Homo sapiens: one gene and its partner. The protein of the gene in region 1 interacts with the protein of each later gene in a pairwise test. Each region holds a gene or a part of one and is shown on either strand. Other genes may lie near its edges.

Region 1 (3,823 bases):
AAGTAGGATATTAAGTCTTCTAACCTATTGTTATTCCTTTCAAAGCATATTTTTAGCATAACCATTTGTAGCTTTATTGGCAAGTGCTGTTAATCATTCCTTATACTTTAAGCATCTGTAGGCCATCTTCACATTTATAGCATATTAAACAAGAGTATTGAGACACCATTCACATACTTTACATGTTGGCAGTGAAGTTAGCAGCAACTGTGCAACTGTGACTGTCAATTTAATAAGTTGTATAACACTAGTCAAAAAAGGAATTCTATTTAGTAATAACCACAGTTTCAACTATTTTTCTCTAGAAAATTCGATCACCAGTAAATGCCTGTAATCATATTATAAAATTATTTCCTTGGATTATATTTTATTTAAAAAAAATTAACCATTAAGTCTGTGACAAAAAGAGCTAATTTTCAATCATAAAATAGTCAAAAATTTTTTCTTAATTTTCCACTTAACTGTTTTGAGGAATTAAAAAATTTAGGGGACTCACAGTCATTATCATTGAAAATATGATATAACTATAAATTATAAATGATAGATGCTATATGTTTAGTTGCTATAATTTGCCACCCATTTCTTTTTTATAATAGTAATAATGAAAGAAAATTTTAAATATTTTTATTTTTATAAAATAAAAATCATATTCTTGTTTTAAATGACTTAATTTCTGCATCAGTTTTTACACAGTTAAGTGGGTCACAAGTCAATTTTTAAATTTCTCCAAGGTTTATTCTTGCTGCAAGGAAAGTAATATTGTATTTCCAAAATAGCAATACATTTACAAACAAATCTGTCTAGAAAACTTTGTAGCTAGAGTTTCTTATATGTATTTACAATAATGTCATATTTTGAATTTTAATTATTGATTCAGTACCTTCAATGATTAATTCAGTGTTTTGAATTTATATTAATCCAGTAGCTGTGAGTGGAAAGATTTGGGGTGGTTGTCAGGGTAAAAAAAGAAAAAAGAGAAAGAAGAAAACCTAAATAGCTAAATTCATTACATTAAAACATTTAGAAAATTTTAAAACATCTTCTTGGGACGCTCCTCCCTTTTTAAGATTCCTGGAAACAGTTTTATATTGACACTTTATTTTAAAATATGGAAGTATGAGATATGTCTCATCTTGTTTTTCAGAAAATATTATGTCTTTAAATTATGTCCTTCTTAATTCTAATTTTATCCTATTAATTGACATTTACTAGCCAGTTTTTATTATTAAAGTGGAAGGATCTCTAGAGAAACAAATGTATGAAACATATATTCTAATCAGCATATATAAAATATTTTTATGTAAACAAATAGAACAGTATATTATTGTAGAAGGAAACATGTTAAGAGAAATAAGAAAAAGAAATGTGTTGGATTCCTTCAAAATTCTGTACTCAATGGCAATTTTTTACATATTTATTTTCCCCCAGGAGAGTTCATTTCTGAGTTGCTGTGGTGTCTTCCTTGAACTCATCAGCTCAATATAATTTTTTTTTTTTTGCTTTCCCTAGGGCTCAGGAGGAGTGAAAGCCTGTCAGAAAAACAAGTGAAGGAAGCAAAATCTAAATGCAAAAGCATTGCCCTTCTTCTAACGGATGCTCCCAACCCCAACTCCAAGGGGGTGTTGATGTTTAAGAAGCGACGTCGGAGGGCCAGGAAATACACCCTAGTTAGCTACGGTACTGGCGAGCTTGAGCGAGAGGCGGACGAGGAGGAAGAAGGTGACAAGGAGGATACATGTGAAGTAGCATTTCTTGGTGCAAGCGAATCAGAGGTGGATGAAGAGTTATTGTCTGACGTTGACGACAACACACAAGTTGTGAACTTTGACTGGGATTCTGGACTGGTGGACATTGAAAAGAAACTGAACAGAGGGGACAAGATGGAGATGTTACCAGACACCACAGGCAAGGGAGCCCTCATGTTTGCCAAGAGGAGGGAGAGAATGGATCAGATCACAGCCCAAAAAGAAGAGGACAAGGTAGGTGGAACGCCAAGCAGAGAACAAGATGCTGCCCAGACCGATGGCCTGAGAACCACGACTTCTTACCAAAGAAAGGAGGAAGAGTCGGTAAGAACGCAGAGCTCTGTGAGCAAAAGCTACATCGAGGTGAGTCATGGTCTTGGCCATGTTCCCCAACAGAATGGCTTCAGTGGGACATCTGAGACAGCAAACATCCAGAGGATGGTCCCCATGAATAGAACGGCCAAACCCTTCCCAGGGTCTGTGAATCAGCCAGCTACCCCCTTCTCGCCAACCCGAAACATGACGAGTCCCATTGCTGACTTTCCTGCACCTCCACCTTACTCTGCAGTCACTCCTCCCCCTGACGCCTTCTCCAGAGGGGTTTCAAGTCCGATTGCTGGCCCAGCACAGCCCCCTCCATGGCCCCAGCCTGCCCCGTGGTCCCAGCCAGCCTTTTACGATTCGTCTGAGCGAATAGCTTCCCGAGATGAGAGGATCTCAGTGCCAGCAAAAAGAACAGGAATATTGCAGGAGGCCAAAAGGAGAAGCACGACAAAACCCATGTTTACTTTTAAAGAGCCCAAAGTAAGCCCAAATCCTGAACTCTTGTCACTCCTTCAAAATTCAGAAGGCAAACGGGGCACTGGAGCTGGAGGTGATTCCGGACCGGAAGAAGACTACCTCAGCTTGGGGGCAGAGGCTTGTAATTTCATGCAAAGCTCCTCTGCCAAACAAAAGACCCCTCCTCCTGTTGCTCCAAAACCTGCAGTCAAGTCCTCATCCTCCCAACCAGTAACTCCAGTTTCCCCAGTCTGGTCTCCAGGAGTGGCTCCCACCCAACCTCCTGCCTTCCCCACATCCAACCCATCAAAGGGCACCGTTGTCTCCTCCATCAAAATAGCCCAGCCTTCTTACCCTCCTGCCCGGCCTGCAAGTACTTTGAACGTGGCTGGTCCCTTCAAAGGACCACAAGCAGCAGTAGCCAGTCAGAATTACACACCCAAACCAACAGTTTCCACACCAACAGTCAATGCTGTTCAGCCTGGTGCAGTGGGACCATCCAATGAGCTTCCAGGAATGAGTGGGAGAGGAGCTCAGCTCTTTGCTAAAAGGCAGTCGAGAATGGAGAAGTATGTGGTCGATTCAGACACGGTGCAGGCCCACGCTGCTCGAGCTCAGTCTCCCACTCCATCTCTCCCGGCCAGTTGGAAGTACTCCTCCAATGTCCGAGCACCTCCTCCTGTGGCCTATAATCCTATCCACTCGCCGTCTTACCCACTGGCTGCTCTCAAGTCTCAGCCATCAGCTGCACAGCCCTCCAAAATGGGCAAGAAAAAGGGAAAGAAACCCCTCAATGCATTAGATGTCATGAAGCACCAACCGTATCAGCTCAATGCATCCTTGTTTACTTTCCAACCTCCAGATGCAAAGGATGGCCTCCCCCAGAAGTCATCAGTCAAGGTCAATTCAGCCCTGGCCATGAAGCAAGCTCTTCCTCCCCGGCCAGTGAATGCTGCCTCACCTACGAATGTGCAGGCTTCGTCAGTGTACTCGGTACCAGCCTATACCTCTCCTCCTTCCTTCTTTGCAGAGGCCTCCTCACCAGTCAGTGCATCCCCAGTGCCTGTGGGCATTCCCACCTCGCCAAAGCAAGAATCAGCCTCATCATCTTATTTTGTGGCACCAAGGCCAAAGTTCTCAGCCAAGAAAAGTGGTGTCACAATTCAGGTGTGGAAACCATCTGTTGTGGAAGAGTAATCTTGTAGCTGAAGCTGAGTGTCCACTTTGCTTGAAATGAATTGTTTGCAGTGTTTCTTGAGTCCCTGAGAATGCCTAGCAAAGTCCTCAACTTACTTAAT
Region 2 (3,823 bases), on another chromosome or scaffold:
TGCTAAATATTTTCAGAAATGATAATTGAGTACAGCTACTCTTGCTGCTTTTACAGCTTTATCTAAAAAAATGTAAAAACTACCAGAAAACCCAAATAACAGGTTTAGGATGATTTCTGAAAATGAGAGCCCAGTTTTAGTTGAATGTTTCCATAGGGATGAACTAAGATGAATTTTATTTATATTTATATACATATATTTTTTATTTTTTGAAATTCTTTGATAAGCTGCTGGTGGAATAAGATAAATTTTAAATGACTAGGCTCTTGCATCAGAATTTGAATGTCAAGAAATGAATTGTCACAAAGCAACAATAGATTCCTGGTTTGTTTTACACAAAAACAACCTCTTTCCAGGTTTTTAGATTACTTCTCAGACTGTGTTACTACGGGTCAGAAAAAAGGTAAGAGAAAAAAATTTGCCAATACTCCTAATCGGTGACTTTGAGGATTTAAGAACAAACTCCAAAAACTATTCCCTGAGACGGAAAGTTACGCTGATTCTCATCCTAAAAAATAAGGAATGTGGCACAAATTTAAAAGATAAGAGGGAAAAAATCACCAACATTCAAATAGAGAGATTCAGTTCAATTAGATATTTTAAGAACTATAGCAGACCATCCTGGCTAACAAGGTGAAACCCCGTCTCTACTAAAAATACAAAAAATTAGCCGGGCACGGTGGCGGGCGCCTGTAGTCCCAGCTACTCGGGAGGCTGAGGCAGGAGAATGGCGTGAACCCAGGAAGTGGAGCTTGCAGTGAGCCGAGATTGCGCCACTGCAGTCCGCAGTCCGGCCTGGGCGACAGAGCGAGACTCCGTCTCAAAAAAAAAAAAAAAAAAAAAAAAAGAACTATAGCAAAGAAATAAATGATGGTTTCTTAATCACAGAACCACATCCCATTTCTGTAACACTGCTATACTATTCACAAAATATTAATGTCATGTACTCATGACACACAGTCTTAATAAAAGACAGAGAAAAATAAGCAGTTAAGTATATTGGAGCTTCAACAAAAATATGATTTAACCTCTCTTTTCAGGTAGATGTGGAAACAATCTCATCAACATATAACGCATCATGTGAACTCTTCAGAGGCAACTTGGGAAGGTGCTTAAAATAAATCATTCTTAAATCTGTGCATCAATGTTTTCTTTTTCTTTCTTTCTTTTTTTTTTTTTTTTTTTAGAGACAGAGTCTCACCCTGTCACCCAGGCTGGAGTGCAGTGGTGCGATCTCGACTCACTGCAACCTCTGCCTCCCGGGTTCAAACAATTCTCCTGCCTCAGCCTCTCGAGTAGCTGGGATTACAGGCGTGCGGACCACGCCCAGCTAATTTTTGTATTTTTAGTAGAGATGGGGTTTCGCCATGTTGGCCAGGCTGTTCTCGAACTCCTGACCGCGTGATCCACCCGCCTCGGCCTCCCAAAGTGCTGGGATTACAGGCGTGAGCCACCGCACCCGGCTCCATCAATGTTTTCTTAAAGGAAATTATGCTATCTTTTTTGAAAAACCAGATCCCTTTCTAGAAAAGCAATGTAAACTCTGCAGATAGAGCCCAACAGTAATATTTTCTGACCAAGACAACCAAATATTAAAATTAAGGTGCACTACTTGTCTAATAAAACCAGTTAAAGAAATCTGCATCTTAAACATCTCGGTAATTACTGAAGGTCCTGTGGTATCAAAATATTACCTAGGCATTATTTACTAAGAATTGATGCTTGTAATTAGCTGGGTGTGGTGGGGTGCGCCTGTACTCCCAGCTACTTGGGAGGCTGAGGCAGGAGAATCGCTTGAACCCAGGAGGCGGAGGTTGCAGTGAGCTCAGATTGCGCCACTGCACTCTAGCCTGGAGATAGAGCAAGACTCCGTCTCTTTTTTTTTTTAAAAAAAAAAAAAAAAAAAAAAAAGAATTGATGCTTGTTTTACTAAAGAGCAATGCATAGCATGACTCTAAAAAAATTAGCATGACAGAAAATAGCTTGATTTGTATACCATATTGACCCATCCACAAAAGCCTATTTATATCTCAATTTGAAGTGATAAAAATCAACACCCAAAACAGAAGCCTGAAATTTGCCATGGGTATAAGGACCGGGTTTCTCCAGAAATCCAACAGCCACTTCCACACCAACACAATATTGCTTCATTTGAAATGACTTATTAGCCATCTACTGGACTACAAATGCTTTGTCATCTCCCAAATTATTAGATCCTAACTAGCTTTTGTTCTTCATCTACCTAATCAAGTTATTTACCTGCTCTATGATTTCAGGTTCCTTATTTGTCAAATAAATAGCTGGGCAGAATAACCTAAGATTTCTCCCAGTTTCAATACACTAAGATTTTTAACTCAACAACTTAACTCAATATTCTCCTGTCTTGCTTCAGAAATATATGTATATTAAAAGGATAGATTTAGCGAAAAAGTTTCTATCTTTCCAGTGCTTTAGTAATCCCTTGGCTTGTCCTTTAATTTGGCTCCAAAGATAAAAGTTCAAACACTGACCCACTGAATATTTTATTAGGCATGTAGTGCAAGTGTCCTGGTCAAAAAACCAAAAATACTGCCTAACTACTGCTATAAAGGATTTTTCAGGTAAGATAATCTTTTCAAAATCAAAACAAAAAATTACAGAAGCACAGACAAATAACATGGAAGTTTCTAAACCAGGTACCACTTAATAAGCTAGGATTCATCTAGTTCTGCAGCCAAATCCTGAAATGACTCAAAAATAATATGCGATGTAAGATTTTCTTTAGTTTGGTAATGCCCATGCCTAGATAGAGAATTAAAAATCCAAAAAGTTACGAGTTCTAAGAAAACCTGAGAAGCTTGGACAAAGTTTTTATCGTGACATTAGACAAATTAAGTTTTTTTCACTGTATTATCAGTTCCAAGATAATAAAGTATCAGAAAATTCCAGGTGATAAAAGGAAAACACACATCACATGCTAAGAAGTCTCAGAAGTGAAATAATTAAAACTAACAAAATTAATTCATAAAGTGCTCAACAAGTAATTGGGTCCAGTCTTAAAAAAGTAAGGTAACCGGTTAAGGAAAACAAAATTGTTAAAAAGCACCTATTCAAATATAAAACTATAATGGAAGAATAAAATTCCAGCATCAGTATCAATAAGCATCGATAGTACAAGAAAGAAATGTGTCTACCTGTAAATTTCTGCCTGTAAACCAAAAGGAATCGGACATAAGTTTTTTTGTTGTTGTTGTTTTTGTTTGTTTTTGAGACGGAGTCTCGCTCTGTCACCACGCTGCAGTGCGATGGTGCGATCTCCGCTCACTGCAACCTCCACCTGCTGGGTTCAAGATATTCTCCTGCCTCAGCCTCCCGAGTAGTTGGAATTACAGGCGCGCGCCACCATACCCGGCTAATTTTTGTATTTTTAGTAGAGTCGGGGTTTCCCCATGTTGGTCAGGCTGGTCTCGAACTCCTAACCCCGTGATCCACCCGCCTTGGCCTCCCAAAGTGCTGGGATTACAGGCGTGAGCCACCGTGCCTGGCCCAGACTAAGTTTTTTGAATATGACTGACCAAAATGAACAGTTTTCGTTTGACGAGGTTTTTTTTTTTTAAAGATCTGTCACCTTTTCAATTCTAAAATACTATAAAATTAATGAGTAGTTTTAATTTCACACTACCTTAGAAGTTCTACATCATTAACTGTAAAAGTTAAGAAATGATTATGTTTGTAAAGAACTTCTTAGTTTTTAAGTTTACTTCCACATGCTGTGTTAATTTCACATTTGATATGGCCTTAGTTATTTGGAACCTGACATTCAAAGGGTTACGTGTTAACATAT

What was found.
Region 2: the proteins of SYNPO2 (region 1) and WNK1 interact in a two-hybrid assay, tested with the Homo sapiens proteins (one large-scale study listed by IntAct).

The regions. Positions count from the first base shown.
Region 1 is NC_000004.12:119,028,336-119,032,158, forward strand, and holds part of SYNPO2 (synaptopodin-2), read left to right. Parts: intron 1-1,509; coding exon 1,510-3,692; coding exon of another isoform or gene 3,693-3,722; exon of another isoform or gene 3,723-3,823. UniProt on the Homo sapiens protein: Has an actin-binding and actin-bundling activity. Can induce the formation of F-actin networks in an isoform-specific manner.
Region 2 is NC_000012.12:755,398-759,220, reverse strand, and holds part of WNK1 (serine/threonine-protein kinase WNK1), read right to left. Parts: intron 1-3,823. UniProt on the Homo sapiens protein: Serine/threonine-protein kinase component of the WNK1-SPAK/OSR1 kinase cascade, which acts as a key regulator of blood pressure and regulatory volume increase by promoting ion influx.